Homo sapiens: one gene and its partners. The protein of the gene in region 5 purifies or fractionates together with the protein of the main gene of each other region. This does not show direct contact. Each region holds a gene or a part of one and is shown on either strand. Other genes may lie near its edges.

Region 1 (3,500 bases), on a different chromosome or scaffold from region 5:
CTCAAAACCACTCTACTTTCTGCCTCAAATTTCAAGACCGAGATTTCCAGATGCCTTTCAGTAAGCCAGGCTAACCGCCCTCTCTGGTTTCCCTTTCTTGCTCCAACTGCCTCCCCTCGATGTGAGTGCAAAACAAAAATATTTTAATGTGCATGGTCTTTTTTTCTTTAAAAAATGGAGGTTATAAAAGTAACTAGAAATAGAGATTCACTGTAACAGAGCATAGTCTCAGATCCCTTGCCCTCTGCCTTAGCTTCAAAAAAAGTATCTGTTTCCCCTGCTACCACCATGGGATAAGCTGTAAAATATTCCTGATCTGTGGTAAGTTCCGCCTCATTTATATGCTATCCAGAAAAACAGTCAAGGTTGTGGAATAGCAATCAGAACTGAAGTGAAACAGTATTGGAACCCCAATATGTGGCATGTATTTGTACTTAAGATTCTTCGGTTTTCTGTACTTTAAAATAAAAGCAGACCATAAATGAGGTGAACATGAAATGGAATCTATAGTGAAGTGGCCCAAGCAGGCCAACTACCTTTTAAGGAGGCCCTCAAAGATAGCATTTATAGAAGCCCTAACTCATAGATCCCATCAGAACATTTAAGAGACCTCTTCCTTCATTGGACTCTGGTTATTAAATGATGATCTTTTGAGGTAATTCTGAACGTGTCGTTTTGTTACAGTCTTTGATTGGGGTATATATAGCATGTTTTTTGTTCATTCTGGCTTTTATAGGTAGACGGGAAAGTCAGTGTGAATGGAGAGACGGTTCATAGAGAGGAGGAGAAGGAAAGAGAGTGTCCCACGGTGGCACCTGCCCACTCCTTAACCAAATCCCAGATGTTTGAAGGTGTGGCCAGAGTGCACGGGTCTCCACTGGAGCTGAAACAAGACAACGGTAGCATCGAGATCAACATAAAGAAGCCAAACTCTGTTCCCCAAGAGCTCGCAGTAAGAACCAAACATTTCCCCGCCTCCCTTTGGGATAATTCCATGGTGAAAGAATCTGTTTTTAAAAATAAGTAGGTCATGATAATGACCATTTCTTTCTATGTTGGCGTATTAGTTTGCTAGGGCTGCTGTAAGTACCACAAACTCAGTGGCTTAAACAACAGAAACTGTCTCACAGTCCTGGTAGCTAGAAGTCCAAAACCAAGGTGTTGGCAGGGTTGGCTCCCTCCATTGGTCATGAGAGAGCATCTGTTCCAGGTCTCTCTCCTAGCCTCTGGTGGCTGCTGGCAATCTTGATGTTCCTGGGCTTATGGATGTGTCATCCCCCTCTCTGCCTTTGTCTTCACTGGTGTTCTCCCTGTGGATGTGTCTGTATTCAGATTTCCCTATTTTATTTTATTTTATTTTATTTTTCGAGATGGAAATTCGCTCTTTTTGCCTAGGCTGGAGTGTAATGGTGCGATCTTGGCTCACTGCAACCTCTGCCTCCAGGCTTCAAGCAATTCTCCTGCCTCATCCTCCCAAGTAACTGGGACTACAGGCATGCACAAGTGCACCCAGCTAATTTTGTATTTTTAGTAGAGACAGGTTTCACCATGTTGGCCAGGCTGGTCTTGAGCTCCTGACCTCAAGTGATCCACCCACCTCAGCCTCCCAAAAGTGCTGGGATTACAGGCATGAGCTACCACACCCAGCCTAATTTCCCCTTTTTAGAAGAACACCAGTCATACTGAGTAGGTCCACCCTTCTCCCTTGTGACCTCATCTTAACTAATCACATCTGCAGCAGCCCTATTTCCAAAGGTCACTTTCTGAGTAGTAAGGGTTAGGACTTCAATAATATGAATTTTGGGAGACACAATTCAACCTGTATCATTGGTATAATGGAAGGTATTACAATTTATGAGCCAGAAATTACTTTTTCTTGTCTCACTATTGGTGTCCAGTGTTATAGAAGAATAAGTAAATCTTTAAAATACCTTTTCCCCCCCTGTTTATTTAGGACCTCATTAGACTTGTTAATGCCATTTGAAAATAACTGGTGCTATCAGAATCTAGCTTTCCATCCCCGGCGATGTATATATAAAAGGGCCTTTTTCTTATTAGTTAAAGAAACAAAAATTCATTTAAAAGCTGAAAGTAATGTAAAGCATCAGAGTACTATTGAATGGCAAAGCTAAAAAATGTATGCTAATTCAGGTACTGCAGAAAAGTGAACTCAAAATAACATGATATTTGTTTCTTTGGAGTAGAAGACATCATTGGGAAAATTGCACTTTCTTCCATCTCTCACCAGAAAGACTCATGCTGGTTTCACTAATCTAACCGAAACTGTCACTACACAGATGCAGCCCTGCTTTCGGGGTACGGGCTGGACTCTGTTCAACCTCATTTGTACTCACCAGAGGCTGAGTTTCTGCTGTTCTAATTTATAGCATTTGGGTTTATATTATAGTTACAAGAAGGGAAAAACTATCAAGATATTTTCCCCCAGGACCTAGAAAGGTTTGGTGTGAAAGGAAACTTCTTCCGGCACCAAGGGAGCTGAGCGTTGTGTGACCCAGCTAGCTAAAACCCACCTAGAAGGCTGGATATCATTATTTTTTTCCTTTATGATTAGTCTTTTGAAGACTAAAATTATTTTTTTTTTCAGAGGAGTTGAGAAGATATAATTCTTCCACGCAGTACCCAAGTGCTCTGTGAAAGAGATTCAAATGGGAGTAGACCAAAATCATTTTCTCACCATGGTAACACGTTTCCTAGTCTCTAGGAGCAGAGTTTTGTGATCCAGGCCACTGCGGAGTCTCTCCTGAACTTGGACTTCCTGGACTTCCATTTTACTTGTCATTTGCATACGTCTTACCTCTGCTAGAGATTTCTTGCAGATGATCACGAGACAGAATATTGAGTTCTGCTAGCAGTGTGAGAACTTAACTGATAGAGTAAACATTAACTTATGCTGTTAAAATTAAACTAGAAGACCCCAAATTAATTAGACATAGGGGTGGCATTGCTTTTCAGGGACAATTAATAATTCTGTTCTTATTTCTCTTTTGCCATTTTTCATGATGATCGTTTTCTAAATTCCCTTCATTAAAAAGATTTCACATTGATTACATATCCCCCAAAGTAACTTGTTTTAAGAGAAGCAAAATTACACGATCTGAAAGAAACTATGCTATTTCAAAAGTTTATACATGATCACATGGAGAAGGATGGCCTTCAGGACTTTCTTCCTAGAAACCAGCCTGATCCTGGTTGCCTAAGGATGCAGGTCTAAACTCAGAAAAGCCTGGGAGTCTTTTCCTTTTGTGTATTTCTTCCTTGGAGAAATTGCCTAGTTCAGAGTAATTTCTAGGTCAGTGAACCCTAATGTTTCTGAACAGGTAGTAGTATTTATGGACCCTGTCTATAGTACTTTAGGCTTTTGAATCAACTATGGCAGGGGGTATTGCATTACTTTCTGTGTGGGAAAATCTCTGTATATATCTGTCAGACTATAAGCTAAGTTGTTAGCTGTACTACATAGGACTGTGGCTCATTACTCA
Region 2 (3,500 bases), on a different chromosome or scaffold from region 5:
ACTGTAATAACTGAGTTTAGCATTTCAATGTTACTCTATGAACTTTCATTAAACTAGTAATTTTCCTTATTTTTAAATAGAACATATGTACTAGTTTATTAAATAATATTGAATATCTCCTTATTATTACTTTGAATATTGAATACCCCCTTATTGTATCAGTTGTGGGCAAACAATTACAAATTTATTTTCTGTTTTTCATCAGCTTTTTGCTGTGTCCGACAGAGAAACCTCATGCCTTACATGTCAAATAAAACCCAACTTAAATTAGGCAAACAAGCAAGTAATAACCGATTGATTATATTTTTTGGAAGTTTATTTAACTTACTATTCTTTAAAAAACGTTTTCTTTAGGCACTCGAAGACTCCAGCTTCCTGAAAAGAAGTGGCAGGGACAGTGGCTACGGTGACATCTGGTGTCCTGAACGTGGAGAATTTCTTGCTCCTCCAAGGCACCATAAGAGAGAAGATTCCTTTGAAAGCTTGGACTCTTTGGGCTCGAGGTCATTGACAAGCTGCTCCTCTGATATCACGTTGAGAGGGGGGCGTGAAGGTGTGTTGTGTTTTGGCTGTCAGTTTATTTGTTCACATATTAAGGGAGAACTGGGAACAGGAGAGAATAGAAAAATGGAGCAAAAACTAGGCAAAAATTTCACTTAGAAGTGGATTTTCATAGAGACTGGAGTATAATTGGGGGTTTTGTTATTTTTTTCTCCTTCATGATGGTGATAGTTTCATTTTTGAAAAATTTCATTTCTGGAAAGGACTGAGAGGTGACAGTTAATTGTGGCCTGTTTTATCAGTGATAATCTATCCTGGCTCTTCTCTCTCCAGATTCAGGCTTAATTTGTGTTCAAGAGTTCTATAAACTGATATATCTAAACATAGAAAGGAATATAAGATTCTGCAAAAAAAAAAAAAAATCTTCTAGTTTCTGAGTAACTTTCATCCTTGGCTTTTTTCAAAAGATTAAAAAAACTCTCTTAAGCAAAAAAAGAAAAATATTTTTACAATTATTTCTATAGATGAGAAGAAATGATTGCTATCTATCATGATAGAATATTATGTTAAACTTTGTAGATTGAGTAATATACCACCACCTAACATGCAGGTAGAAATCCTCTTTTGGTCCTTTCAGAGTCAGAGCTAACCCAGGACAGAGCAAGTGTGAAAGGAACATGTTAGAGACATTCTGTTGCGGGAAGGAACCTTCTTTCAAAATCCCAAGCTTATGGTCAGTTCAGTTATTTCAATGCACATCTTATTCCTGTGGCTACTGGGTATAGCGTCAGCAATTTCTGAGTGTACATCTCCAGCTATTCAGATTTGACTAGATTGAAACCACAAGTGAAGTTTTTTTTTTGAAATATTTCTGTGCTTCTATCGACATCAATGTGAAAACATTGAGTTCTGGCTGTGATTTGTGCTTAATTGTTAGGGATTTTACATTGCTTGTGTATTTGGAATATTACTTTTCTATTTCTAGATATTTTTCCTAGCATATCTATGACAAAAATGTCAAAAATCAGCAAACTTAAAATAATTGTACAGCGAACACACATGTATTCGCTGCCTAATTCCACCATGATGTTTTACTATGCATGCTTTATCTTATACTCATCTCTCTCTCCTCTCTCTCTCTTTCTCTTTCTCCCTCCCTCCTTTCTCTATTATAATTTAGTCATCTTATTTTTTGAGGCATTTCAGAATATATCACACTTGTCCTAAATACTTCAGTATGAACATCATTAACTAGAATTTATTCTTTGTTTTACTTCTGATGTGAAACTTATATAAATACAACATGCTATGAATTTGTTTTCCAAAAAACCAATCAACAATTTATTAAGCATGGTAACAAAAAACCTGAAGGCTTTATCTTTTAGAGTAGTAGTTTTTAAAAATAAAAAATGTGAAACGCTATTTCAGCATTAACCTTTATAATTACTGCCACACGTATTGGCTGTTTGCTGTCAAGGTGTGACATTTTCATAGCCCAGATGACGATTCCAATACGTTTAAGGAAATGAATCTGAGTATGTGATTCATCTGAGTGGTTAAAGCTGTAAAAGCAGAGGCTGAAATTCTGAACCCGCTGTATTTCTTTTCCCTTACTGAAGAACCTACTCCATGTAATGACAGAATTTATATCTAGTCAAGGAATAAAAGGGGAAGGGATAGAGGGCATGTGGGAATATGCAGGCTTCAGTCAGTTCAGATGCAGTGGCCCACCCAGCGGTGTGGAATCTAAGTCGTCTTCTCAGATCCTTGTTGGAATGGGCACCTGTCCATGTAACCAAAAGCAGAAGGCCACTGTCACATCCCTTTCTGATCTTGGAAATGGGGCTGCAGACCTTGTTTAAAGAGTGCGTAAGTGAAGTCTTGGAAATTACAACTAAGCGGGGAAAAAAAGCCTGGGATGGAGGCACCAGGCCGATAAAGCTCTTTTGTGATCAGTGTGTTAAAATTCTACTGCTACTCTCTAGATTGTAGTCCTAAATTGATGAGCACTATAATGTAGGGTAATATTTTTAGGATAACAGAATTGCAATGTCACATTCTCTAGTTTTACGTGAAAACTCATATCAAGAATGATACTTTGGGGGAAAAAATTCTCTGCAGGACACCGTACTGGGCTAAAAAATACTTTTTCTTAAAAGTTAGAAAGTAAAATAGTCTCTTTATGACTTTAAAATTCCACATGTATGGATTTCGGCAGGAGTAATTGATATACTTATTGGAAATGAGAAATAAATGTCTGATTTTTTAGAAGGTGGTAAAAAGAAAGCACCAGTTTATTGACTACTACTCCTCATGGTCACAGCTGCGTTTACTTTCCCTCTTTTGCCAAGACTCTACTCTCCTTTTACTCTGTCCCTGTCTCATAGCTGTATGTTAAGCGACTTCCTGTAGACTGTTCTCAGTGTTATTTACTGTAGCTTCCTGCCAGGCAGGAGGGAGGGGAAGAGACTGCATTTAACTCAGGTTAACCCTGCAGGTGCTCTACCTGCTGAGAGCTTGTAGCTGTCAGGCACTGTGCACAGCCAGGCCTGGAGAGAACCCTGGTGAGAAGCAAGTAACATTTCCAAACCTTTACAAGTGCACAGGAGGCAGGAAGAGAAGGGTGTGAAAGAGGGACAGCTTGGCTTGGATCTGTAGTGTTGTTCTCCCCCCTTTTCTTCCTTTGTCTTTAAAAGAGTAGATTCATTCTTCTTCTTTTAAGAAAGCAGATTACTATTTGTATCTATCTGACCTTGAGGAGTATCAAAGGGTGTTCTTTTGAATTTGTGTTTAAATGATTTTGAATCATAATACAGCGTTCCCAATATAATTTCCATGGCCACTCTGAAGAAACTGTGAGTTCTGTGCTCTCATTTGGGCATAAGACTTCAGATTCCTTTGGAACTTTAGAAGTCATCCAGTCCAGCCTCATATCTAATGTGTGATTCTGGTTTATAGAATCTATCCAGACCCTTTACAAGCTTGTTTTTTTTTTTCTT
Region 3 (3,500 bases), on a different chromosome or scaffold from region 5:
ACTCAGATTGTTTGAAGAAGGACATTGCAACTTTCCCTGAAATCAATGGCAGGGCCATTTTGGCAAGCCAGCTCCTTTCTGATGGGCTGTCATTTGGCTGGGGAAGCCTGGTTGCTTGCTCAGCCCCTTCACCAGGTTAAGTGCTAGCACAAGATAGCAGTTACTTTTCAGAAAAGGCTAAAATTCTTTTAACATTTAAAAAACACATAATGACATATATTGATTTTATATTTACAGAAATATATGGTTTTAGGTCATAAATTATATTTCGTCTGCTTTTCTAAGAGAATGCTACACAGGCTTTTGTAAGTGAAAATTATGATCATCTTCTAAACATGACTTTATTTTGTTTGATGTCCATTTTAGAGCTGATGTTTTTGGAAACAAGTGCGCTCACAGGGGAGAATGTAGAAGAGGCTTTTGTACAGTGTGCAAGAAAAATACTTAACAAAATCGAATCAGGTAAAAGCCTTTCCATTAAGCAACTTTTCTTCTGCATATTTTACACTGTAGCTCAGTAGATCACCTTTTAATTAATAGTTTCAGGGTGATTTAGTAAAGAATGTTCTCTCTCTACCTGCCAACCTAAAATCATCACATATGGGTTCAAAGGTCCTGTTCTTATCAGGATGAAAGCCCCATCCTTATCAGGATGGTTTCCATGGTGATGAAAGTGGATGGGCACACCAGCTCAGCTGTGGAAAGGTAGTCAAGGTTTCAGGGAGTGTTTGCATTTAGAACCATAGTCTTTCTTTGGTCCTTCACTAAACGGAGGAAGAATAGGCCTTTGTCCACTCTGTCAACAGCACGCTAATTCTGTTGGGCCAGTGGTCATGTGTAAGGGAGTTATAGGTACATGGTATAGTGTTGATTGTTGCAGATCGGGCATCATGGAACTATGGAGTCCAGAGTAATTTTATTTCTGAAGCTTACTGAGCATGCCTCAATTATAAAATGCCTCATTTTTGTATTTGCTTATTAAAATAATTTAAAATAATCCTAATGTAGGCAGCTGACGAAATACTGTGTAGTTGTCATTTACTAAAGTAACTATATATGGGCATCACCTTTTAATTGATTCATTCAAACATCTGAGTGCCTATTTGTCAGATGCTGGGATACAAAAATGAATAAATCACACCCCTTGCCCCCCAAGAAACTGTCTTTCATGGGAGACAGTCAGAGGATAATTATAATATCACAAGGCTGATGTAGTAGCTGAGAGATGCACAGGCTCAGGGTAACGTGAAGAAGGGGACCTGCCCCAGCCAGAGGATAGAGGAGGTGTCAGGGAGGGCTTTCAGGGGAGGTCTTAGATGAGCTCAGTCTTTCAGAATATAAGGAAGAGTGAGCCAGCAAAGGGAGTGAGGAAGAGGGAATAGCAGGAGAAAAGGTTGAAGAAAGGCAGGAGCCAGCCAGTCCTCATCAAGGATCTAGAACTTTATCTTGTAGATTACCAATTGTCAACCCTGGATGAGCACTAGAGACACTGAGATGCATTAAAAGTTCTAATCCCAGGCTCTGCCTCTGGAGACGCTGAACTAATTGGGCTGAAGTATGGTCGAGGCACCAGTGTTTTTAAATGTTTACTCATGCTGTTCTAATGTTCATCCAAGATTGAGAACCACTGCTGTAGGTGGTGGGTTGTCAGCAGGTGGGTGATGTGATTGGGTTGTGACTTGAGATAAGTCATGTATGTAGGAGGTTATGTTGAAAACAAACTGAAGGGAGGACAGGCCTGGAGGCCAGGATACCAATTATAAGGCATTTTTGAGTAATCCTAGTAAGAGATGACTGATTAATGCTTTAACAAGGATATGGAAGCAGAGATGGAGAGAGAGATGGATCTAAGATATATTTAGGCAGTAGCATCTTATGACTCATATGCCCAATAGTGGGACAGGACAACTGACTCTTAGGTGGGACAAGGTGAGGAGGAAGGGCCAGCAGGGGAGGAGGAACCAAGGATGACTCGCAGCTGTCACACTGGTGTCTCTAGACAGAGATGGGGTGGAGCCAGAGGAGAAGCAGGGAATGTGAGGGAGTAAAGATGGCTCTGTTGCAAATGTGCGGCCTTTGCGGTAACGCTGAGACATGAACATGGAGTTATCTAGTAAGCTTGGGGAAGAGTTCCTGGCTGGCAGTATAAGTTTGGGAACCATCAATATATAGGAACAGCTAAAACTGTGGAAGCAATGTGATCGTCCGGAGAACAGTGTTTAAGGAGAGCAGTGATCAACAGAACCCTGGAGTTGGAGGATGAGCAGAGGAAGAGGAATCTACAAAAAAGATGAAAAAGGAAATGGTCGGAAATGTGTGAAGAAAATCAAGGGAATGTGGGTGTCACTTAAGCCCTAATTATAAGCAAATCAAAGGAGTGTTCATTATGTAATGTAATAGTAACAGAGGGAAGCCTCATAAGCTAAGACTGAGCTGAAAAACACACATTGGGATGGGGAATAGAAAGTCAGTGATCATTTTGATCAAGAACAATTTCAGCAGAATTATGAAGGTAGAAGATGGCTGGCCGTCCGTTAGGAAGAAGTAGGAGGTGAGCAAGCAGAGTGTCCACTCCTCTCCTGAGGAAGCACAGGCTGGCACTGTAGGGTGCAAAGGGTTAATTTAAAGCTGGGGTTGTGGGTGATGGGAGAAATTCCAGCATGTTTAAATGCTGAGGGGGAAGGAGAGAAGAATGGGCAAGGAGAGGGCAGGGAAGAAGGAGGGTGCTAGGTGAAGTAGGAGGGAGGAGAGTCGGGCCCAGGTAGAAGGGCTGGGTTTCAACAGAAGTGGACATGTCATCTTTTTGTATTTTTTTTTATCAGAAAGAAAAAAAAATTACTAAGCTTGGTACAAAAACCAAGACACTGTTACATAAATCCTTACAGTTGGCTTACTGTTGAGTATTATTAAGCTCAGCATGAGGTTGTATTTACATGACCTTGCTATTTTAATATTGTATCCCTGAATGCATCAGATAGAACAACTCATATGCAGTCTTCCAAGATGTGTTTTTTTCTGAGATCATCAAAATCATAAGTACCTCTAGGTGAAAAAAATATAAGAGTATAAATTAGGATTCTTCAGCAGTACTTTTTATTTTTTTAATGGGTAATACATTCAGAAACCATTGTTTTCTTCCCTTTTTTTATATAAAATGTATCATATGATAGACTACCACGCCTTGCTTTTTTACTTACTATTGTATAACCTACAAATCATTACAAATCAGCTTATAGTTTCCGTATATACATATAATACATAAGGTACATATATATAACATAATGTCATACATAATGTGTGTGTGTAATGTGTAATATGGGTTGAGTATCCCTAATCCAAAATGTTCCAAAATCTGAAACTTTTTAATTGCCAACATTGCCACTGAAAGGAAATGCTCATTGGAGCACTTCAAATTTCAGATTTTCAGATTAGGGATGCTGAACTGGTAAGTATAATGGAAATATTTCAAAATCTGAAAAAATCCAAAATACTTCTGGTTT
Region 4 (3,500 bases), on a different chromosome or scaffold from region 5:
CATGTTACTTTATCAGCAAATTCATTCCGTTTTTGATTGTATATAGTTGCTTCTTTTTTTACTGATACAAAATATTTTATATATTTCTGGGGTACATGGGCTAATTTTTGCATTTTTGGTAGAGATGGGGTTTTGCCATGTTGCCCAGGCAGGTCTCGAACTCCTGGCCTCATGTGATCCACCTACCCCGGCCTCCCAAAGTGTTGGGCGTGAGCCACCGCACCCTGCCGAATTCATAAGTTTTAAATTGCATGTCATTCTGAGCAGAGATTCGCACCATTGGATTCTTTCTGCCCAGGAGGTGGGTCACCCCTCTGTCTAGCGTATCCACGCTGAAAGCCCTCCCTGCCCCAAGACACTTAGTAGAAGTCTGAGTTATCAGATCCAGTGTTGGAGTTTCATAGTGCTCGTGTTCGAATCATGCTTATTTGATTTAATAATGGTCCCAAAGCACAAGAGCTGTAATGCTGACATATTGTTATATAATCATAATCTTTTATTATTAGTTGTTGTTAATCTCTTACTGTGTCTAATTTATAAATTAACTTTGTCATAGGTATGTATATTATAGGAAAAAACAGAGAACTACTATAGATGGTTTTTTTCCTTCCTACACCCAAAAGATTTTTCCCCCTAGCGTTCTGAAATTTTACAGTGACATACACTGTCGTGGTCTTCTTTTGGTTTACTGCAGTGGGTACTCAGTGGTTCTTTTGAATCTATATCATGTCTTTCAGTTTGGTAAATTTTATTTTCTTTATCTGCTCGTTACTCACTTCGTAGCTGTTTCGGTTATCAGACTGAAAAAGCATAGTATCAATATATAGAATTTGGTATTATCTGTAGTTTCAGGCATCCACTAGGGGTCTTAGAACGTATCCCCTGCAGATAAGGGAGTACTACTGCTGTTGTAAAAATAGTCATCTTTTCTATATTTTGCTTTTTTAAAAAAACATTTGAGTCCATTTAAGATTTGATCATTTATAAAGGAACTGGAGTATTTCCAGCAGTGTGAAGGAGAGAAACAAATTTCACTCTCCTGCTTTGCAAATTGAAGGTGATGATGGTGTTTTCCTTAGTGGTTTTCCTGTTATTTTAAAAACCGTCTTCTTCACCTGTTCCTACTCCTTTCTTTCCCCCTTGTTCTTCTAAGTCAGCATGACATAAAACTTAACGTGTAATTCATGAAGTCATCTGCAAGCATCACCAATGTTTGATTTTGAAAACAATTCCATATACAGAAATAATTACTAATAGTATCCTGAGATCAAAACCATGTACTTTATCCAGCTGACTGGCTTCTAAGGCATCTGAATGAAAACTACCATGTATATTAATGTGGGCAAAGGAACGATTTACCTGACTTTAAAGAAATGGGTTCAGGGAGCACAAAGAAAGGCCATTCATTAGGTGGAGCCTGCCACAGAGCCCACATTATCCTTGGAATCAAAGGGGTTGATAAGGCTGTGCAATTGGAAAATCAGTAGGCATTAAGGGAGAGAAAGTAGATTGTTTTAGAAACTTGGTGCTACTTCTACCATGCCTACTATCAGTGAGTTCGACTATCATCTTTTCTTCCTTCTTACTGTTGCTTTTTTTCTGTCCCATAGTTCTTCTAATTTACATGAAATGTTGGCACTTCATAAATATTACCCACCTATAAAATGTTTTTTTCCACATAGCAAACCAATCACTGCGAGTTGATGTCTTTTCTTTGTTAGTGTAGCATTTCACGTGAGTGTTCACAGCCACTTCTTCACCAAGGAAGACCCAATCATCCCCTAACCTAGTTTCAAATCCAGGCTGTTCTAAAAACTAAACGATGCTAGAAAACTGGTCTCAGAATAGTGAAGGTTTCTTATGTTCATCACAGAGTCAGTTTCCTAATGGGATTCAAATGATAGACCAAATATAAAAATATAGTTAGCAGATGTCTCTAGATAGACAAATATATGCCAAAATATATATTCTGGAGACTCAATTTACAGTATTTTCTTTTTTTAACATTACTTTCCATGCTGTTTTAAAAACACAGTAGGCTTTGACATTTGCAGACTTGACATACATATTTTCAATTAATTACGTCCATTTAAGTTAGGAGGACTTCGAGAACGCTCAGTAGGAGTGAATCATTAAGCTGATAAGTGATTCAAGCCAGCCACTCAGCCTTTACGGGTAGATTATATGCTTTTTTGATTCAATAATTTGGGTTTTTCCATAGATGTTCAGAACTACCTCTTGTGAATGTTCTCCTTCTATCCTAATTCTGACATCTTTTCATTAATTTTATCAATAAAGAAGTATATGGCAATTAATTTCATAACAACACACATAAACTTATTGCATACTGTTACATGTAAATTATACATATCAAGGACAAAATTTACAGACTCCAAAGGAGGAAAGAAACATTTTTATATTGTCGATAACCTAACCAGCTTATCTAGATTGGTGCAATATATGTAAAAAATTAACTCAGCAACTAGGAAAAAATGATTATTGGTTGATGGGTGGCAAAACTTTAAATGGTGATTTAGGTTTGTTTGCTTACCCTTGAGATTGAAATAACTGATAGGCTAGCAATTTAAAGAAGGGGACATACGGAGTTTGAATTATGAAAGCTAAGTCTTAGCAGCAGAGGAATGAACGTGTGAGTGCAAATTATCCAGGAAAGCCAGTAGTAGAGCACCTTGCCCACGACTTGCTTTGCTGACACTCACCTTAGCTCTTGTTAAGTATGAAATTAACACTGTTCTGAGTCAGGAGGTTGTAAGGCTGGAGGTTACAAGGATGCGTTTTTGTTTGCTTGTTTTAATTTTTTGTTTAAAGAAAATCAAAAATTGAAATGCTTATTTTTCAATGCACTGTGAGTGGCCTGGGTTGTATTTTCAGATTTGTAATGGCAGTAAAACTCACCATTTTAAAATACCCATCTCTGAGGCCAGGCGCAGTGGCTCACACCTGTTATCCCAGCAGTTTGGAAGGCTGAGGCAGGAGGATTGCTTGAGCTCAGGAGTTGGAGACCAGCCAGGGCAACACAGTGAGACACTGTCTCTATTATTAAAAAAAAATTAAAAAATAAAAAATAAAATACAATAGCCATCTGTTGTAGAAATTTCTCAGCTTTTGGAAACTAGTAAATATTTACTTGTCTGAAAAATGGCAGAATTCATAGTTCAAAAATTTTGAGCATTTGTAGCAAAATAAAAGGGATTCTGAACAATATTTTTCCAGTCTGATTGTTGTTTTCTTTTTTTTTCTCCCTTCCACTAGGTGTCACTCTGCAAACCTGAATGGTGTATACTACAGCGGCCCCTACACGGCTAAAACAGACAATGGGATTGTCTGGTACACCTGGCATGGGTGGTGGTATTCTCTGAAATCTGTGGTTATGAAAATTAGGCCAAATGATTTTATTCCAAATGTAATTTAATTGCTGCTGTTGGGCTTTCGTTTCTGCAATTCAGCTTTGTTTAAAGTGATTTGAAAAATACTCATTC
Region 5 (3,500 bases):
CTTCTGAATTTAAATCATTAGTCTCCGTGAGTCTTATTCTGGAATTTCCATAAGAGTATTTATATGGTTTGTATTCCTGGCTAAGATTCAGCAAGACTTTAGGGGAGAAAGTGTCTGTATATGATATAATGAAATATCTTGTAGTTTCACCAAGTTTACACGCTCTAAGCCCACGGTGTCTAGAAAATGCTTTGAGCTAGTTTATAAACCCATGAACTGGATTTACTGCAGCTAGTTCAAACAACTTCAGGCTGTGGGTTTGAGATAGCAGAGGACCTGTGGCTTTATGGGACCTTTTTTTTTTTTTTTTTTTTTTTTGTAAACAGTGCGTCTGATGTGGAAGTTGCTTCTAGGCCTGATATAAGAAAAATAAAACTTTTAAATAGTGAATGTAAATGCAGTGTGAATAGAAGAAACAGAATGGATAATGATAATCGGTTCATTTTTGGGGCCTGAGGATAACTTTTCAGCACAATAACTTACAGTTGTAGTAGTCAAGCCATAATTTAAGTCTCCCAGCCCATTACGTAGGTGAGATTGGCATGGTCCAACTAGCACATTCATAAATAGCACCAAGCCACTGCCAAGCCTTATTCCAACTTCCCAGAACCTGAGAAGAAGTTGAACTTCTTAGAACTCAGATATTTGCTTTCTTTGAAATTATTTTTGAGAGCATGGCTTCAGAAGCTATTTAAGAAGTATTAAATACAGTTTACCTTAGACTCTTACCTGTGCCGTAAATTTCAGCAGTGTTTAGTCACAAAATGTTGCTAGTTTAAATGTCCTGAGAGCTGAATGGTAGCCCATTGGGATTGGGATTAGGATTAGGAAGGCAGGCCTAGAGGAAGAACAAACCCTGATTTTTGTTCTCAGTGTGGAGTGAAGATGACAGAGCATTCTAAAGCAAGGATATTCACAAAAGTGTATACCAAGTGTGGTTATCCTAAGCCACATTAAGATGAGTTTATTGATTTTGATCTCTTTGTACTATGTGTTTGCAATACCAGATCAGTTAGCTTAAATCTAACCTTGCCAGTTTTGGCAAAGAAGTGGTACTTATGATTACCTTAGAAAATAAACACCAACTGTGGTTGCCATTGTGGTTGGGAAGCAAAGAGGGCCTTTGTCTTTCAAATTTTACAGCTGTGCTGGAAGGCCCAGGTGTGCAGGGTGTTGTGAATTAAGGGTTTGGAAAATACTTTCCATCCTGTTTATGCAAATTAAGTTTAAAGTGCAGATCACCAAATTGTTCTGGAACCTAAACTGAGATTCATGTTTTTTTTTTAAAGTAGATTGTTGTATGGATGGTCCTGAAATATTTCCTTCTCCATATCACTTAAACTCAACAGACTTTGAAACAAAAGTCTTCCGATTTGTGGGACAGGGAAGAACCTGGGTTGTTTGGAATAGGGAGCATTTTAAACACAGGTTAATTGCCAAGAATACAGTCTGAAAGGTGCAAGTGCTCTTAGAGTTTCAGGGAACTTTAGCTTGAGCTCAGAGTCCTTTTCTTTTGCAACAAGTGTCTTCCCTCTTGTTGGGGGATAACTTGTCTGTTGATAGCTCTCTGACAACTTTTTTTGAGTAAGGTGAGATTTCTGGCAAATAATATTGGTTGTCGTGAGAAAAAGGCACACTGTTTAAGTCTTGCTGATATGAAATTGTGGCCGTAATATCTATTCTTTGAGTACTGCTAAAGTAGGAAGTGTCCAGAGATTCCCAGCGCCCCATGTAAATTAACTGTGTATTGGCACACAATGTCCCTCTTGCCTTTAGGACATGTCAGAACTGTTCCTGCCCCGCTTTTCAAGGGACTGTTTTAAAAAGTAGTGTATTGTCTCTTTGCATAATTATATTTGGTTACTAGATTTTACAGACTTTGGACTTTTGAACATATTATCAGCAGTAATTCTCGGAACCATCTTCAGAAAGATGAAGAAAAATTAAGTGTAGTGTGATGAGAGCTGGTTCCTAGTGGATGTCCTCATGTCCCATCTCCCCAGCTCTGCACCGTTAGCTGAAAGCTTTCCTCCCTCCAGTGTTAATTACTTTGCCTGGGTTCTCCCTGCAGCTTCCCTGAGTCCATTGGGACGGCCTCTGGCTGACCTTTCTCTCCCTCAGACACCATGATCACAATGAAAGGGCCTCTCCCGCTTCTGCAGGGGTGTCTCCTTGGTGCAAAGTCTTCAGCCTCCTCTCTTTCAGGGTGGACAGGAATGCAGGAGAGAGCACTGGGGTTTTGTGTGACTTAACAATGCACCTGGCCCAGTGCTGTGCACCTGCTAAAGCCCTGAAGGTCTGTTAGATAGGAAGGCTGGGTGGAGGTTGTTTAAAATAGCCTATAGTTATTTAAAAAGTGGCATGCACAGGAGAGGGAAATCTAGAAGAGGGATTCATTGAATTGAAAGTTGTTATATGCAGTAAAGGATGTTGGTTGTATCAGAGTCTTTCTTTCTTCTTTTCCTCGTTTGTTTAAAACATAAAAGGGATTCCTCTGACCTACCCCATAGGTAGAAGGACTTTAAGTTTCACGAGCAAGCCTAACTTTCAATTCCTTTTGAATGAGCTATGTGACATTTACTCACTGGGTACGTTCCCCCTCCTCAGTGACTGCAATTTGAAACCCTGGGGGTCTTTTAAAAGCGAACAGAACTCTGGGCCGTGTTAATATTCAGAGCTGTTTACAATGGATGCAGTTTCAAAGGCTGATGGCATTGTCTTGAGACAGGAGGGAGGACGGGTGGAGGAAAAATTCCCAGGCAGGGAAGGGCAAATATCTAAAAATCTCCAGTGTTTACCAGCCTGTGGGAAATTTAGGGACCGTTACTGTTATTTTTTATGACTTAAGCATGACACTGAGCCACTAGGGTTCATTCTATCTACCTCATGGCTTCAGTTCTTGTATGTCAGTTATGTGGTTATCTTGTGCTTTTGTTTCAAGTTAAAGTGTGGAAATTGGTAAGAAACTCAGATCTTATCTCCTCTGGAAAGAAATAGAGCACTTTGAAGACCAGTGGTTAACATTTTTATAATAGTTTACCTCTGGGACCTGCATTTATGTTTTGCTCAAAGAATTTGATATAGCTGCACAGTTTAGAAGAGCAGTCCCGACTGACCAATTAATTGTCCAATTATGACTAGGACTGAGAAGTTTTTTGCTGAAATACTTGATACATGACCATTCTTATTAAGCAAAATGAATGGATCAATAAAGATTGCAGAAAAAATTTGCAGTTTATTGATGGTCTAATTTCTAGTTGAAAGTCGGCAATTTGTGTCTCTTTTTTGTAGGGGGTGGTGGGTATGCTTGTGAACTTTTCTTATACAAAGGCTTTTTGCTTTATATGTTCTTATATTCTTATATTTTGTATAATTTGTTATCAATGGTTTTTACCTAAGTACTTTATGCATAGTCTTTTGAAACACAAGTTATAACTTCAATCTGTTCATAGAAGTCCTTCAGTTTTTTAAGCTGTTTCTCCATTTCACTGGGTTTTATA
Region 6 (3,500 bases), on a different chromosome or scaffold from region 5:
GTAGCTCATGCCTGTAATCCCAGCACTTTGGGAGGCCTAGGCAGGGTGATCGCTTGAGCCTAGGAGTTCAAGATGAGTCTGAGCAACAAGTGAAACCCTGTCTCTACAAAAAAATACAAAAATTAGCTGGGGGTGATGGTGTGTGCCTGTAGTCCCAGCTACTTGGGAGGCGAAGGTGGGAGGATCGATTGAGCCTAGGAGCTTGAGGCTGCAGTGAGCTCTGATAGCATCACTGTACTCTAGGCTGGATGACAGAACAAGACCCTGCCTCAAACAAAACAAAATAAAACTAACCAACCAACCAAAAAAATACCTCTTTTCTTTAATATGTGTGTGTATAGTCTTTAATAGTCTAGTCTGTTTTGGATAACAATGCCATAATTATAGATAGATAGATAGATAGATAGATAGATAGATAGATATATGTATATACACACATACACATATATTTACATATACTAATATATAAATGTGTTATATGTTAAAAATATATAAATTATATGTTAAATATGTAAAATAGGACATTCTTTTTAGAGTAGTTTTGTCTACAATAAAAAGTTATGGAGTAGATAGGGGAAGCCTGTTACTCCTCCTCCAACCCCACCTTATTGATGTATCAATGAACTCTACATGTGTCATATGGAAGCTTATTCCAGACATTGTATCAGCATCGTCACACTGCTGCTTGGTTTGATGATAGCCATTTTTGAATGGACCCAGGACCTTTGGAGCTGTGTGGTCTGTGGCAAATTTTTTGTCAACAAGTCCTTGACCATCTTAAAGTTTAAATTGTTTAACAACACCTAGAAGATTTACATTGCCTTAGACATTGCTTGAATTACACTAGACATCAATAATGCTCTTTCAATAGCTATGCATGTCAGTATTCTCCTCTTCATTATTTTTCCGCATTTATTCCTGATTGCATAAGCACATAGGCACAAAGCACTTTTCACAAGTTGTATGATTTGACTTTTGTTCTTCAGAATTGATTTGGTTGTTGAATGACTTATACTCCAAGTGTTCTTAGAACATAAATTACTTCCTTACCATTTCCATTTTTTGGTTATTTTTTGTAAATCATTATTTTTTGTTTCCACTGTTATTATAGGCCTCTATTACAGGTTGAGTGTGCCTTATTTGAAATGCTTAGGACCAGAAGTGTTTTGGGTTTGGGATTTTTTTTAGATTTTGTAATATTTGCAGAATACATACCAGTTGAGCATCTCTAAGCCAAAAATCTAAAATCTTATATGCTCCAATTACCTTTTCCTTTGAACATCACATTGGTGCTCAATAAGTTTTGGATTTTGGAGCATTCAGGATTTTTAGATTAGGGATGCTCAACCTGTAGTACTTTAACTATTTTGATACTGTCCTTGTTTTTGGCACTTATTAAGATGATGGGGTTGAAAATATATGTGAAACACCTGAAAACCGAACAAGAGCACTGGCATTCCTTAGACTAAAGAGGATGGGACTAGTCTATGAAAGTTTTTGGTTGAAAGTGTGTAAATATATGTGTCTGTGCATTGCTTGTAGTTTTACCATAGTTATCACATCCCACTTTGTATTTGTTATTGTGAACTTATTTTGCATTGCACAACTTATATCTAGTACATCATATCTTCTTTGTATATCTTTTAATCATCACAGTACTGATGTGAATAATTTGCAAATAATATATTTTTAGGAGCATATCGAGTGAATATTGAACCATTTTAGATGGTTATGTTAGAAAAATTTAGATGTAGTTGTGTTTAATTTCATTATATCTTCAAAATGACTGGAAAATAATATATAACTTATAAAAACAAATATGAAGGCCTTTAAATAATTTGCAGAGAATAATTTCAAATGCTTGGCTCAGTCAAAACTTTGTTCTCTCTTCATAAAATCGCTAATATAATGTTTAAATATTTCCTGTAGTTAATCATTGTTGGTTATTAGAACTTAAACAGATTTTGTCTTTCAGCTCCTGAATTCAGACCACAGATCCACAGCCACAGTCCAGATATGTAGCGGTTCTGTAAACCTTAAGGGTGCTGTGAAATGCAGAGCTTATATCCACAGCAGTAAACCCAAAGTTAAAGATGCTGTGCAGGTACAAAAAGGAATAACGAGCATATGGAACCATGTTAACTATTAACAAAAACCTAAAATTTTACCATTTTTTAATCTTATATTTTGTAATTATTAATTCGATTTTAACTGATAATGGCCTATTGTGCAGTCCAAATGTACCATATAATTGGTGTGAAGATTTTCATATGTAGAGTATCTATTTTGTGCCTTTTTAAAAATGATGGCTATACAAGTTTAGTAAGTGTTCCACTGTTATACATATTAGTATCTAATTTGGAACACTGCAATTATTTTTTTAGATGTGAAATTTTATTCATTTATCTGTTTTTAACTATTTAGATAAATTTATCATTAAACTATAAATTTGTTAATAAGTGTGCTAAATAAGTGGAAATAAAACATTGAATGATGTATCAGTTATTTAGTGGGCATGATTGTACTGGAAAGCAAATTATTTTTTTTGTTAGTTAAATATTGTAAATCTAAAGTATTTTATTTCTTACTGTGTTTTTTGTGTGTTTTTCCCTGTAGGCAGTAAAGAGGGATATATTGAACACAGTTGCTGATCGTTGTGAAATGCTATTTGAGGATCTGCTTTTGAATGAAATTCCAGAAAAAAAAGTTATGAGTATAAAATAAGTACTTTTTTGCGTATCTTCAACTGATATAGTAATAAGATATCAAGATATAGCAGATACGTCATCTTTTATAGCTACCTATCTATATTTTCAAGCAGTATATCATCTTTTATTATTGGATGAAAATTTTTCAGTTGCTACTCAGATTTTTTTTTTTTTTTTTAGACAGAGTCTCACTGTGTTGCCCAGGCTGGGGTGCAGTGGCACAGTCATGGCTCACCTGCAGCCTCAGCCTCTTGGGCTCAAGCAGTCCTCCTACCTCAGCCTCCCTAGTAGGTGGGCCTGCAGGCACATGCCATGATGCCTTGCTAATTTTTGGTATTGTTTTTTTAGAGACAGGGTTTTGCCATGTTGCCCAGGCTAGTTTCAAACTCCTGAACTCAAGTGATCCACTGTCTTTGGCTTCCCGAAGTGCTGGGATTACAGGTGTGAGCCACCATGCTTGGCTCTAGAAAAACGTTTTAGAACACTATCAAATTTAGCAAATTTGTCAACAATTAAGAATTTCAGGGAGGATTTTTAAAAAAATTAATTCCAAGTGAACTTCTCCTGCCAGAATGAGTAAACTTTGTTAACATTTTAAAGTTAGTATTTTTTGTTGATATCTATGAGTATTTTAAATAATTTAGCCATAATCAAAATATTATTAGTGTTAAATACTATATAATAGCTCCTTTAGTAGGTACTATTTATATAAACTACACTAGTTTATATGCTTCTCAGCTATTACTCTAACAGACTTCATTACGTTTAAAAAAGGCTGAGTTACAGTATCTT
Region 7 (4,234 bases), on a different chromosome or scaffold from region 5:
GGTGGGGCTGGGGGGGAGTGTACTTCCAGAAAAACCAGTAAAAGAAGGAAGGAAGCAGAAGAGGGAAAGGAAAAATGCTGAGCAGGAACAGTCTCAGCCCAGCCTTGGCCTGACCCACAGTGGAAGAGCTGTGGGGCATAAACCACACTGCAGAGCTGAACTGGCCTTTTGGACCTTTTATCAGTCATTGGCTTGGGAGGTGAAGGAAATTCCCAGGTAGGGAGCTCCGTTCTTCCTGCAAGGGGATCTGAGTGGGACACCAAATCAGCATCTACACCCAGGACAGACAGCCAGCGTGGACTTGCATGATCCGCCATCGCACAGGAGGGAAAGGTAATGATTAAAACACAATGTGCCATCCTGGGAAGAGGGCCAGACCTGGAAGTCAATCTTCAGCGTTTGAGATATGGTGGAGATCAGGGTGGACGACCTCTGAGGTCTCTAGCCAGGACCAGTCACATAATTTGCACAGCCCCGTGCAAAATGAAAACACAAGAACCCCTATTAGAAAATCATTTCAAGACGGCAACAGCAAAGTACTAAACCAAGTACAGGATTCTGAGCATGCGGCCCGTTGTGACTGCATGGGCTGTTCACCCATGAAACCAGCTCTGTCTCTGGCAGAGGGGACTGCAGGCTTTGGAACCAAGGAACTCCAGCCTGGGAGCCAGGCACAGCCCGAGGCTGTGCTGAAGGCAGAGAAGGAAATGTGACCCAGGAACTGCATGCCACAGACCAAGACAGTGAGGGCTGGAGCACAAAGAGGGAGTGGGTTAGTGAGCCTGGAAGGAATGTGGCTCTTCCCACAGAGCCTCTGGAGTCTTGTACATCAAGTACCCATCTAATAAGCAAACTCATTGAATATACCGTGTGTGTGTGTGTGTGTGTGTGTGTGTGTGTGTGTGTGTGTGAGAGAGAGAGAGAGAGGCTAAAATAGAAGAAAGCTGCAAAGTGCTGGAGGGCAGGAGTCAAGAGGAGAAAGAGGCCCATTCTGCGCATTCTTGCTGGAGAGAGGCTTTGCAAAGGGACCTGCCTGGGAACCAAGAACTGGGAAGGGGGCCAGGGTGAGGATTCTGAAGTTTGCCCTAGGGGTAGGAGCATATTTTAGGGGTCGAGCGACACACCCCTGGGCTTCCAGAAGTCGGATGGGGCTAAACGTGGAGAGCAACAAGCAGGGAGACGCGACGAATACCAGGCCGAGGGATCTCCAAACGCAGCCAACTCCTCCCGGGGACACAGACCCCGCGGGGGCACGGTCTCGATGGAGGGGAGTGTGCTCCGCGGTATCGGAGCCTACAGCCGCCAGCGCCTCGCCCACTCGGGGGCCGCGCTCCCCTCGCCACCGAGCTGGACCCGCCTCCTGAGGGTGCGCGGAGGTGCGCCTCGGTGCGCAGCTGCGGAGGATCGCTTCCGGGGGGCGGGTCAGCGGAAGTGAGGGCGGTTGAGGCTGGGCGGCCCAAGGTGGAAGGAGGGGCCGTGAGGTGAGAGAGTCCGGGAGCCCGAGCTTGAGGTGAGAAAGGTTCTAGGGAGGCGCGGAGGCGGGAGCGCGACCTTCCAGCCCGTTAGTAGACTGGGTCTACGTGCCGGGCGCTGTGCGGAGCCCGCAGCTCCTGTTCCCGCGCGAGTTCTCGCGGGAGCCGCAGCTGTCCGTCTCACTTGGCCCGGGGGAAACTGAGTCCCCGAAGGGTAGTTGCTCGTCGGAGTTCCCCAGCAAACAGTGACCAAGCCAGACCTCAGGCTTCTAGTTTCGGCTTCGCTGCTTGACGGGCCGGGCTGCCCCGCCGCGCATTCTGAGACCTGGCCGCGGCTCGGAGGCTTCCGCGCACTCGGGTCCGGGTCCTGTGGGTCCAAGGGCCGCTGGGCAGGCGGCGAGCACTTGGCCGACCTTGGCCCAGGTCGGGTCGTCTGCCGCGGGGGAGGGGCGACTCGCCCTGGCGGGTCCCCGCGGGGAGAGGGTCCGCGCGGGTCTCCGGCCACTGCTGCGCGCGGCAAAGTTTCACTGAGCGCGGCGGCCTCCGTGGGGGCCCCCGGGACCAGGGGTGCTGAGCAGGGCCCTGCGCTGGAGGAGCTCCCGTTCTCCTGAGGGGACGCCTGTCAGCAGACAGCAACTGCAGCCTCCGGAGGGCTGCGGGGCGCAGAGGTGACAAGACCCACCGGTGCTGCCGGCGAACCGGGGGAAGATCTTCTAGCCAGTGACACTTGGGGGCGGGGGTGACAGCTGAGTTGGTGTTCCCCTTCATTCGTTTAGTTCAGCGCGTTGAAGCGCTCACTGTGTCCTAGGCAGACACCGTGCTGTGCGCGGGGATCACAGTTATCTAGTTCCTCTCGCGAGGACTCCGAGGGACAGGCAGGGTGCTGCGGAGCGCACAGGAAAGGACCTGACCCTGTCGCAGGGAAGGAAGGTGATGCTTAAGCTGAGCTCTGAGGAATGATGAAGAATGAGCTCGGCGAAGGGGGTGCTGGTGTTTGATGCAGGGCTCAGAGGTGGGCCCAGTGTTGGGGGTTGAGGGCCAGTGTGGCTGGAGGGCAAGGGGGAGAGCAGGAGGGCTGGCTGCGAAGCGTGCAGGCCTTGGTGCTCAGTGAATGTGGTCTAGAGACGGCAGAGAAAGATGGGTTTGGGACTGATTGTGGATTTTATCCTGTGTTGGCTCTAGTAAGCCAGTTTTAAACGGATGAGCGATGTGATTAACTGTGTTTGGGAAGGATTCCTCTGGCTGTGTGTGAGGGTTAGGCCCGGCTGGGTCTTTGGAGGTAAGGTCGGAGAGGAAGTGGCAGTAAGCACCGTTAGTGCAATTTGTGGCCGACACGGACATTCAGCACAGAGCCTGGCACACAGAGGGACTCTGATAATAAAGGCTTGAACTGAGCCGAGAAGATGGAGCCCACGCAGGAGGTGGCAGGACCTGGACCAGGCTTTGGGTGCTTTGCACTGGCATGACCACTGAGTGACCTTAGACAAGTGCCTTCCCCTGTCCAACTTCCTTTCCCCATGTGTATCGTGAAGTGAATGACACCTCGTCTCCCAAGGGTAGAAGAGGGGACCCTCCACAGGAGGTCTCCAGAAAGAGCTGCTTTGTCAGTCTAGTCTATCTCCCATTCAGAGCCTGTCCAGGGCTCCCCAGTGACCCGGACCTCATGACTTGCCCCCTACTTTTGTAGCTTTATCATGCTCTGCTCCTCTTTCCATGTCCTTCACCTTCTTGTGCTGGACCTGTGCTCTTGCTGTTTTGTCTTCATTTCCTACTCCCTCGCAACTTACTACAGGGCACTAGGGCCAGAGCTCTGACCTCATCTGGCCACCTGCCTAATGCTACTCAGCCTTTGCTAGAAGTATGTATTCATGTCCTATCACTCTGCTGGACAGCGAGTTCCTTGAGAGCATGACTGTGTCTTACTCCTTCCATAGCCCCTACGGTGCCCAGCACAAGGCCTGGCACAAGTGGGTACTGTTGGTGTTTGATGAACAAGTGAATGAACGAGCACACTGATTGCATCTGCTCACCATGCAAGGACTGCTGTGAAGAGCAGTCAGATGTCACCTCACCCATCTGTGTCATGTTTTAACAGTTCATTAAGCACTCAACCCCATTTCACTCATTGACCCTTAAGGTAGCCTCCAGTGGCAGCTTTTCCTGTCTCCTTTTTCCAGATGGAAAAACCAACATTCAGAAAAGTTAAATAACTTGCCTGTAGCTACAAAGCCAGAAGGTGGCTGAGCCAGGATAAACTTTTTTGGCTCTTTTTCTCTGTAGCTCATGAGACTGAGATTGGCATGAGCTGGTGTTCGTTCTCCTATTTTCTCTGATCTCTCCCTTTGCAAGGGCCCAGCAGTGCTTTTACATCTCATCTTCAAGAATGAATCCTGGGCTTGGATAGTACTTATAATTTGGCTAGATGAGCTTTGTAGCTACCAAGGATTCTATTTGCATCTTTAGAAGTTTTGCCTCAAGAAACCTGAGAGCCCAGGAAGGCTCTTGGGTTGGCCAAGCTCACTAGGCAAATCTTTTTTTTTTTTTTTTTTTTTTGAGACGGAGTCTCGCTCTGTCACCCAGGTTGGAGTGCAGTGGCGTGATCTCGGCTCACTGCAAGCTCTGCCTCCTGGGTTCACGCCATTCTCCTGCCTCAGCCTCCCAAGTAGCTGGTACTACAGGTGCCCGCCACCACACCTGGCTAATTTTTTGTATTTTTAGTAGAGACAGGGCTTCACTGTGTTAGCCAGGATGGTCTCGCTCTC

Evidence for each region.
Region 1: the proteins of LRIG1 (region 5) and LIMCH1 purify together in Homo sapiens (co-immunoprecipitation; one study listed by IntAct). This does not show direct contact.
Region 2: the proteins of LRIG1 (region 5) and LMO7 purify together in Homo sapiens (co-immunoprecipitation; one study listed by IntAct). This does not show direct contact.
Region 3: the proteins of LRIG1 (region 5) and RAB4A purify together in Homo sapiens (affinity purification with mass spectrometry; 2 studies listed by BioGRID and IntAct, with this or other methods). This does not show direct contact.
Region 4: the proteins of LRIG1 (region 5) and FGL1 purify together in Homo sapiens (co-immunoprecipitation; one large-scale study listed by IntAct). This does not show direct contact.
Region 6: the proteins of LRIG1 (region 5) and ODR4 purify together in Homo sapiens (affinity purification with mass spectrometry; one large-scale study listed by BioGRID and IntAct). This does not show direct contact.
Region 7: the proteins of LRIG1 (region 5) and MTFR1L purify together in Homo sapiens (affinity purification with mass spectrometry; 2 studies listed by BioGRID and IntAct, with this or other methods). This does not show direct contact.

The regions. Positions count from the first base shown.
Region 1 is NC_000004.12:41,649,657-41,653,156, forward strand, and holds part of LIMCH1 (LIM and calponin homology domains-containing protein 1), read left to right. Parts: intron 1-736; coding exon 737-952; intron 953-3,500.
Region 2 is NC_000013.11:75,800,330-75,803,829, forward strand, and holds part of LMO7 (LIM domain only protein 7), read left to right. Parts: intron 1-354; coding exon 355-553; intron 554-3,500.
Region 3 is NC_000001.11:229,298,611-229,302,110, forward strand, and holds part of RAB4A (ras-related protein Rab-4A), read left to right. Parts: intron 1-366; coding exon 367-462; intron 463-3,500. UniProt on the Homo sapiens protein: The small GTPases Rab are key regulators of intracellular membrane trafficking, from the formation of transport vesicles to their fusion with membranes.
Region 4 is NC_000008.11:17,864,525-17,868,024, reverse strand, and holds part of FGL1 (fibrinogen-like protein 1 precursor), read left to right. Parts: intron 1-3,273; coding exon 3,274-3,433; 3' UTR 3,434-3,500. UniProt on the Homo sapiens protein: Immune suppressive molecule that inhibits antigen-specific T-cell activation by acting as a major ligand of LAG3. Responsible for LAG3 T-cell inhibitory function. Binds LAG3 independently from MHC class II (MHC-II).
Region 5 is NC_000003.12:66,494,523-66,498,022, reverse strand, and holds part of LRIG1 (leucine-rich repeats and immunoglobulin-like domains protein 1 isoform 1 precursor), read left to right. Parts: intron 1-3,500. UniProt on the Homo sapiens protein: Acts as a feedback negative regulator of signaling by receptor tyrosine kinases, through a mechanism that involves enhancement of receptor ubiquitination and accelerated intracellular degradation.
Region 6 is NC_000001.11:186,396,338-186,399,837, forward strand, and holds part of ODR4 (protein odr-4 homolog), read left to right. Parts: intron 1-1,961; coding exon of another isoform or gene 1,962-1,975; coding exon 1,976-2,104; intron 2,105-2,616; coding exon 2,617-2,707; intron 2,708-3,500. UniProt on the Homo sapiens protein: May play a role in the trafficking of a subset of G-protein coupled receptors.
Region 7 is NC_000001.11:25,818,520-25,822,753, forward strand, and holds the start of MTFR1L (mitochondrial fission regulator 1-like), read left to right. Parts: upstream 1-1,434; 5' UTR 1,435-1,510; exon of another isoform or gene 1,511-4,234. UniProt on the Homo sapiens protein: Mitochondrial protein required for adaptation of miochondrial dynamics to metabolic changes. Regulates mitochondrial morphology at steady state and mediates AMPK-dependent stress-induced mitochondrial fragmentation via the control of OPA1 levels.